Linked DNA regions of Homo sapiens: region 1 is linked to region 2. Evidence: fine-mapped expression QTL. A gene starts in region 2. The other region holds a variant in brackets. All regions are shown on one strand. Distances are between the middles of the regions. Region 1 overlaps PIP5K1B (phosphatidylinositol-4-phosphate 5-kinase type 1 beta). Region 2 holds the start of PABIR1 (PP2A Aalpha (PPP2R1A) and B55A (PPP2R2A) interacting phosphatase regulator 1).

Region 1 (4,393 bases), 170 kb after region 2:
AGGCACAGAAACTACTGGCTTGGTCAGAGCTCGGCGTTTGCCTTATTTGAACACGGTCCGAACAGTTGGCTACATCTGATTGGCCAAGACTCAGTGGTTGGCACAAATGTAAACTATGGTTGGTTTACACTTCCGCTTGTTGTATAGTTATCGATGTACAGAAAAACCTTTAGGCCAAACTTAAATATGTAAGGAGGCAGCTTTAGGCTAAACTTCATTTAACAAAGGTATTTTAGGTTAGCAACACCTCTGGGAAATGCTTCAGCCAGCCCCAAACCTGCTTCCCAGTGTGGTTCCTCTGACCTGAAGCCAACATACATTTCTGCCCAGCAGCTATTCGTGACCTCCCTGAGTCTACAGAGATCCTTGGTTCTGTAGTCAAGCAGGGTAATTCTCTTTCAGATTCCTTGGCCTCCACTGACTCCCCCTCTTTGCTTAAAGGTCAGTTTGGTCCTTCTGAGCCTTGAGAGTCCCCCTCTCCACCCTGACCATTTCACTCTGCTGTTTGCTTTGTCCACGTGACAGTTGCACTCTTGGGTGAAGCTGGCCTTATGCAAATTTCGTCTCACCCTAGAGAGCCCCTGGCCAGCAGCCTCACACAGGGCAGCACCCTTCCCAGGAGCTTGTCCATACCCATTCAGCTGCCTTCCCTGCCATGGCCTCTCTTCGAGACGTTTCCCTTTGGCCCAACCACTGTATTTCCATTTGCCTTCTGAGCCTAGCTCTTGTGTTGTGTACAAAGTAGTGTTCCCTGTGTGGGCCTGGGATCTGTAACAGGTGAACTTCCAGGTTCATGTTACCAGTTCTGGCCATGTCTCCTCCACCCAGAGGTCCTCTAGCTGGGGGGTCTGCAAGAATCCCAAGATTCATTTTTGTTTCTCTGATATGCTTCAAACATACAGGAAGAGTAACAAACAATTTCTTCCAAGGCAAGTAGAAAGTTGGTCCCGACATCCTCTGTTTAATCCTTCTGTTACCTGTGGAGTCATCACCACAGTAGTGAGCCTTATCTCCTGTAATTTAAATGACTTGTTGATTTGGGAGGGAAGGAATTTCACTGGGGAAGTCCACTAACATAAACCTGCTGCTGAGGACTCATTCACTTCACAGCACCAAGCTGGCCCAGCCTCCCCACAGACAGACCAAACGCCTCTACCACAACCTGCCTTTGCATTTAGTTCATGATAGTTATGGGTGCAGGAGAATTAGGTAAGTGTAAGGAGGGAACTAGGAGACAATGTTAAACTCTCCATTCAGAATAATATTAATCTAAAATGGAATCATTTAATAACCTGTTTTCAAGGATAAAGTAATAAAGGTGACATGTGTAATGAAGTAATGGAGCTCATTATTTTTCCAGCCAGCCCTATTAAAAATTAGTGTGTGGAAGGTCACAAATAACTTAAAAATGACCAGATTTGTTTTCAAAATGAAGGATTTGGCTATAATGCAAATTTCATCCTGAAGGCTACATGGGGAAAAAAATAATGGTAGAGTTTCTCTGTCTTTTCTTTCATTGCTTCTCATCACACTGGAAGAATGGTTCAGACTAAGCACTTTGTCTGGGAGAAGATTTTTTGTCTTTTATTTATGTATGAGTGCATTTCAGTTGGTGTCCTCCTAATTCCAACCACCCTCACCTGCTGCTTTCTGTGTGGTCACTGAGTTGTGACAGGAGAGAGGCCAGGTATTCGAAGGCCAGGTCAAAGCTCATTTAGGGAACCGGTCGAGCCTTCGCCTTTTCCCTGTTCACCCTCCTGCCTTTCCAACCTAAGTGGTAAAACTCATCCTGAAAGAATCACGGAGCTTTGGAGATGAGAGGGAACTTTGGCCATCATGTCATCCAGCCCTTTTATTTATTAAAAAAGGTATTGATTGATTTTAAAATTTATAAATTATTTTTGTAACAAAACTCTATGCCCAGAGTTTAACAAATAGTCGTGTAACATGTGTTAAGAAAAAGAGCAAGCCGTAGTCCACCTCCCCCTACGTCTTCATGTGCAATCACCTTCAACTCTTTGAGCTGATTCCTTTGGCAATTACTTTGGTTTTTCTAAATAACATGCTTATATTGTTATTGCTTGATCTATTGGGT[G/A]TAGGCATTAGCTAATAACTGCCCACTATAGAAGACGAAGATTTAGCTGTCTTTTCTCCACCCGACACATACCACGTATGTGTACTGTTCCCACCCCCTCCTCCTACACCCTTCCAGTTTCCCTGTATAGTTACATCTTGACTGTAGTCCGATCGATATTGAGTGTTTTATTATGGCTTTGTGAATAGTGTCATATACTATGTTTCAGTTTCCTTTCCTGTGTGACTTTTTGTTTTTATTGTAATAAATGACTGCCTTGTTCTTCGGTTTGCTTAGTTTTCTGTGTATTTTTCCTTAATAGAACCCTAAGCTTTCCACCAGTGTCTTCATTTCTTCTCAAACCATTTAAGTGCATGAGGTTCTGTTCCTTTTATTGTCTTGCAGAAGTTTCCGCCAGACACTTCTGACCAGCCTGGACTGAACTGGTTGCCCTCTAGGACCTGATGTACAAATGTTACTTTGGGGCCTCTCTGCTCCATCATTCTGGGGATTCTAGTAACCTCTTGTCTGTATCAGTTCCGTTGTTTGTCATCTCCTACATCTTCCTCTTTGCTTCTTCCTCTTTCTTGGTTTACTCCCTCATTTTGGTGGAACACATTTTCCAGAAGAAAATCCTCCAGTATGAAAAATATTCATTGCAGGCAAAATATTTGAGATCTTGCATGTCTTAAGTCTTTATTCTAACCCTAACACTTGATTGATAGATTAACTAGTATAGAATTCTAGATTGCAAATATTTTGGATTTTTTTTTTCAACATGGTGAAGGCTTGGCTCCATTGTCTTCTAGTTTCCAATTACCATTGAGAAATCCAGTGCTGTTCTGATTTCTGATCTTCTGTAAATGGCTTGCTTTCTTTGCCTGCCTGTCTGCCTGTCTGCCTGCCTGCCTGCCTGCCTTCCTTCCTTCCTTCCTTTCTTCCTTCCTTTCTTTCTTTCTTCCTATTATTATTATTATTATTGCAGAAACCTGTAAACTCTTTGATTTTCTCTCAGAGTCTCAGTATTTCATGATGCTAGGCCTTGGTGCAGGTCTATTTTCAGCCAGCATGCTAAGCACTCAGGGGACCTTTTCAACCTGCAAACTCATGTTTTGAGTTTGGGGAAATTTTCTAAACTATTTTCTTATTTCCTCCTCTCTATTTTCTTTTTCCTTTTTGTAATTCCTTTTATGCATACAGAATATCCTGGATTTGTCTTCCAATTTTCTCTACTTTTCTGTCTTCAGTCCCATCTATTTATGTTTCTGTCCTAGTTTCTGAGAGATTTCCTCAACTTCATCTCCTAATCCTTCCACTGAGTTTTTAATTTCCATTACCATGTTTTATAAGAATTCTTTTTTTGTTCGCTGAGATTTTATTTTTTAGCAATCTTTCCTTTTTTCATGATTGTAATTTCTCTTTTTTCCTGAAGATATTAGGATTATGTTTTTTGTTTTGCCCTGAATTTTGTTTCTTCTCCCTTTTTAGTCTCGGTTTTCATCCAGGCTGCCTTTTTCTCTTTGTAGTCTACATGTTCTATACTGGAGGTTTTCCTCAGATTTTTGGAAATCTTCATTTGTCTGCTCAACTAAGGCTTGAGTGGGAGACTAGAAAACTGATTAGAGGCCAGGTGTGGTGGTTCACACCTATAATCCCAGCATATTTGGAGGCCGAGGTAGGAGGACTGTTGGAGCCCAGGAGTTCGAGACCAGCCTGGGCAATACTAGTGAGACCCCATCCCTACAAAAAAAATTAAAATTAGCCAAGTGCAGTGACACACCTGTAGTCCCAGCTACTCAGAGGCTCAGATGGCTTGAGCCTGGGTGGTTGAGGCTGCAGTGAGCTGTTATTGCACCATTGTACTCCAGCCTGGGCAACAGAGCAAGACTCTGTCTTAAAAAAAAAAAAAAAAAAAAAAAAATCCCTGACTGGAAACTTAAGCACTTGAGCAGAGCTTGTTGACCAGCAAGCTATTGAGCTGGTCAGACTCCCTATAGGAGATGCTTCCAGTTTCTTGCTTGGAGGAGAAAGGCCTGGCTGTCAGCCTTCTGGGACATCTGGCAGGAACAGGTGTCTTAGCATCTAGTATATACATATTTACTTCCTCTCTTTCTTTTACCTCAATTGCTTCTGGTGTCCCTGGGTCCACACATCCTGTTCTGTGTTTTCCGCAGGGAGAAAAAAAATAAAATCCTCCAGTCTTCTGTTGGAATGGGGAGAGGTTTTTGCCTGGCTATATATTTCTTTGCTTTTCCCAGTGGTAGCTCAGGATTTTCCTCTCAAGTTTGCTAAATTGATTACTACCTGTTCATATGCCTT
Region 2 (4,393 bases):
TTTCCTCCTCTCTCCTGTTTTTATTGAATAATTTGTAGCATTCTTTCAGCCACTTACAGTTGAACTTCAGTCATTTGTGTCTCCTGTTCATCCTCTGCACAGCATGCTATTAGGTTCTGTTGTTGCCTTGTCTCCCAAATCCATCTCCTTCTGCCTTTCCCAACTTTGGTTTTAGACCTTTGTTTCGTCTCAGAATTAGCCATCCTTCTCTAATTCATGCGAAATTCTCTCTTTAATCCATGTGAAATTCAGAAAAAACAATACAGGTTTTTGAAATGAGTCCTTGATTCAAATTGGTTCAGATCTTTGTTCTTCCGTGTACTGGCTGTAGTGCCTTTTGCAATTTTTGAACCTCAATCGTTCCTTCGTAAAATGAGTATAACAATATCTATGCAGTGAGGATTAAGTGGGATTATGGAGTGTTTAAAGTGCCTAGCAGGGAGTAGGCACTTAGAAAATGTTGGTTCTTTCCACCTTGTGTTCTTCTGCTTCAGATCTCTTAATTTCTACAACTCTAAATGTGCTATTTTCCTCTCTCAGTAAATAATACTACCATCTCACCAGTTTAAATAAAAAAAGCTATGAGTCCCCTTCGAATAATCTATTTCTTTCACAATCTAAATTTAATCCATCTGCAAATCCTATTTGTTCTAACTCAACACATATCCTCAGTCTCTCTGCTTCTCCCCATTGACACTGCTACAACCCTAGTCCAAGAATCTTATCTGTACTGTTGCCATAGGTCCTGAATTCATCCTTCTGCCTCCACTCTGGTCTTCTTTCAGCCTGTTTTCCACAGAGCCTAAGTGATATTTAAAACATAAACCAGATAATATCAGTCCCCTGCTTAAAACCCTCCAGTGGCGTTTCATCATATTCAGAATGAGATCCAACTCTTACCCTCTCCTAACACTCCCGCTCTTATGCTTCAGCGGCACTGCCCTTTTTTCTTTTTCTGCTAACTCATCAAACTCATGGCTGCCTCCGGCCTTAGCACTTGCTATTCTCTCTGCTTGGAATACTCATTCCCCAGATGTCCACGTGACTTACTGCTTCTTGTCATTTAGATCTCAACTCTAATTGTCCCCTGACTTCTATCAGTAGTGCTCCATCACACCATCTTACTTTTCCTAAGGCTTACCACTATCTGAAAATAGCCTGCGTTTCTCTATTTTCCCCTCAGTAAGAATTAAAAGTTCATACTAGGGCCCATTTCCTAGCAGTGTTTGGCACATAGTAAGTATGCTGAAAAAAAAAAACCTTGACTGACTGAATAAATGAACAAATAAACTCACTTTTAATGAGATATCAAGGTTTTATATTAATTACATGAGCCAAGAATTGTGGTTTCATTTTTAAAATGTGAGGACCTACTGGTTTAATCCTTCATACTTCACACATATGCTTGTGCTGGAACTATGACTGTAAATCAATAGCAATACCATCCTCTGTTTTGGCTTCTTCCCCTAACCTAAATAGTTCTCAGATTTACTTTTCTCTCCATCTCCACTGCCACACTGTCACCTTAGTGCAAATGACCATCCTCTCTGGCCTTTTTTCTGTAAGGTTTTAATCTCCCAATATGTATTCTCCAGACTGCAGGCCAGTGAGCTTTTCAGTTGCTGTTACACCCATGCTTGAAAACCCTTTAAGTTTTCATTGTTCTCAAGATAAAGACCAGAATGTGGTCTGGTCCACCACCTCACGTCAGGCCAGCCCTCACTCTCCACTCCAGGCCACACTTTCTCCTCCCCTCCTGGTTCCCGCCTGCCAACTGGCTGGGTAGCCGTTGCTTCCCGCTTCCTGCAAAGTTCTACATCGCACCCATTTCGCCCACTTCTTCAGATTTCAGGAGATTGTTCCTTCCTCGAGGAAGCCCTCCCTGATTAGGCCAAGCGCCACTCCACGTCATACAGCCCCACATCACCATGGGCCTCTCTTTCAGGGCTTTGTTTTATGAGTATGCAATCCAGAATATGACAATCTTATTGACATGCGTCAACGCGAGCTTGCGCTCAATAGCTATTTGCCGAAGGAATATACGGACTAGCGGCCCGACCACTCCTCGCCCCTCCCCTACCACTGCCGCGCACATATTACGCATTAAGCAGGCGCCGCGAGTACGGACATCGCGAGCGCCTGCGCGAAGGGCTACGCATGCGCAGAGGGGCCAGCCCGCTGACAGATTCTCGGTGGCGGCGGCAGCGGCGGCGGCCCTGGACTGCGGGGAATGGGAATCCTAGGTCCCTGACTGAGCACCTCCCCCGCCTCCCTGCCCCCGACATGGCTCAGGAGAAGATGGAGCTAGACCTGGAGCTGCCTCCGGGTACGGGCGGGAGCCCGGCGGAGGGCGGTGGCAGCGGCGGCGGCGGGGGCCTCAGGAGGTCTAACAGCGCCCCCCTGATCCACGGCCTCAGTGACACTTCGCCGGTGTTCCAGGCCGAGGCGCCGAGCGCCAGGCGGAACAGCACAACGTTCCCGAGCCGCCACGGCCTGCTGCTGCCGGCCTCCCCTGTCCGCATGCACAGCAGCCGCTTGCACCAGATCAAACAAGAAGAGGGCATGGACTTGATCAACCGAGAGACGGTCCACGAACGGGAGGTGCAGACCGCAATGCAGATAAGCCACTCCTGGGAGGAAAGTTTCAGCCTGAGTGACAACGACGTGGAGAAATCCGCCTCCCCCAAGCGCATCGATTTCATTCCTGTGTCACCAGCACCGTCACCCACTCGGGGAATTGGGAAGCAGTGTTTTTCGCCATCCTTGCAAAGTTTTGTAAGTAGCAACGGATTGCCTCCAAGCCCTATTCCCAGCCCAACGACCCGATTTACCACCCGGAGAAGCCAGAGCCCCATCAATTGCATTAGACCAAGTGTTCTTGGACCATTGAAAAGAAAATGTGAAATGGAAACTGAATATCAGCCAAAGAGATTTTTCCAGGGCATCACCAACATGCTTTCTTCTGACGTTGCACAGCTGTCAGATCCTGGTGTGTGTGTATCTTCGGATACCCTTGATGGAAACAGCAGCAGTGCCGGATCTTCTTGTAACTCACCAGCGAAAGTCAGCACTACCACCGACTCTCCTGTGTCACCTGCCCAAGCGGCTTCTCCATTTATTCCACTAGATGAACTTTCGTCTAAGTGATTCACTCATCCTGAGACTTTCTTTTTGCAGTGGAGAGAGAGAATAATCTAGTTGGGGCAAACACTGAACTTTGTCAATTAATTTGAGGCTATTTCCTATTTGACCCCTTTTCTTTTTTGAAATTCCCTGAAATGATGTTATTCTAGAGAACTTCTATGTCAGGTTCCTTTGGATACCCTTGAATTCAGTGTAGTAATATTTTCAGACGTTTCCCCAATAAGTGTGTTGAAGCATACATCTTTACGCTGCTAATATGTCTAAATACATATGTTATCCCTTGATTTTTTTAAATAACTGAGAGCTCTATTTATTTATGGGATTATTAAGTTCTGATGAAAATATAAATGTTGACTTAATCAGCATAGTAAACTGATGTTTAAAATTCCATACTTCATGCCCACACTAATTTTTAATGTTATTTTCAGTGGTTGCCGATTTCCATTTGATGAAGAACTATACAGCTTAAAAAAATACGTTAGTTATATCTATCTAGTGGTTGTCTGTTTTACCCAGGAATTCTTGGATATTTAGTTTTCTGGGTACTGAAGTGGATGGGAGGGGGAATGATTAAAGAACAAATTATAAAAGTTTGAACAAATCTTTTCAAATTAAGTATATAAAAGTAAACTTTTAAGAAAAACATTTTTAATGAGATTTTAATAGTAATTCTAGTCAGTCATACAACTATAACTACTATAGAGAAAATAAAATTTTTTCCTTTTTTTTTTTAACCGGAAAGTGCATTTGCTTGGGTGTAATCCTAAAGTGAAATGGGACAGTGCCTTGCAGTCTTTGCCCACTATACATAGGCTAAGGCTAAGCTCTTTGTACTACTGCAAACTTAAAAGTTTTTCAAATGTGGGAAACGTGTGGGAAGGCTTGTTGAACTTTGGCGCACTCAGGTAAACAATACTCTCTCAATTGTTGATATACTTTAAAATATTCAGTTGTGCCTCAGTTCCAGAAATTATTGCCAAACAGGAGCCACAGCAATTTTTGGCTACTTTTCTGCTCTGCCCATCTGTCACCTTACTGGTTTTCCCTTGTTCAGGAAGGAAGCAGCTGTTTCCTTGCCAACAGGTCCCTTCCTCTCCATCTCCCACCAAACTAGGGCACCATTGATTAGACAAAGGTACAGTGTAACTTGGGTTTCTGACAGCAACAACAGGACTGTGAATTGTTTAACCTCTGTGGTTAAAGCTACAGCTTGAGTTGACTGCCTTGGGGATGTCAGTTAATTAAGGGG

What was found. PIP is the estimated chance that this variant, and not a neighbour inherited with it, causes the effect. A credible set is the group of variants that fine-mapping cannot tell apart.
Region 1: its variant is the best candidate, but not a certain one, in a credible set for the expression of PABIR1 in tibial artery (GTEx, PIP 0.53).

Annotation. Positions count from the first base shown.
Region 1 is chr9:68,949,836-68,954,228 of GRCh38, forward strand. All of the region lies in intron 14 of PIP5K1B (phosphatidylinositol-4-phosphate 5-kinase type 1 beta), which reads left to right. LOC101927069 (a long non-coding RNA gene) reads right to left here. Exons shown (of 3, transcript NR_110647.1): 3 at 3,253-4,393. Among named protein-coding and RNA genes, the nearest start is that of PRKACG, 62 kb to the right of the region's middle. RefSeq lists enhancers at 8-627, 628-1,247. The variant G/A (reference allele first, on the strand shown) is at 2,096.
Region 2 is chr9:68,777,882-68,782,274 of GRCh38, forward strand. It overlaps PABIR1 (PP2A Aalpha (PPP2R1A) and B55A (PPP2R2A) interacting phosphatase regulator 1), which reads left to right and starts at 2,184. Exons shown (of 1, transcript NM_138333.5): 1 at 2,184-4,393. The coding sequence starts at 2,284. The coding sequence ends at 3,147. All of the region lies in intron 2 of PIP5K1B (phosphatidylinositol-4-phosphate 5-kinase type 1 beta), which reads left to right. RefSeq lists silencers at 1,673-2,087, 2,205-2,444 and an enhancer at 2,092-2,920.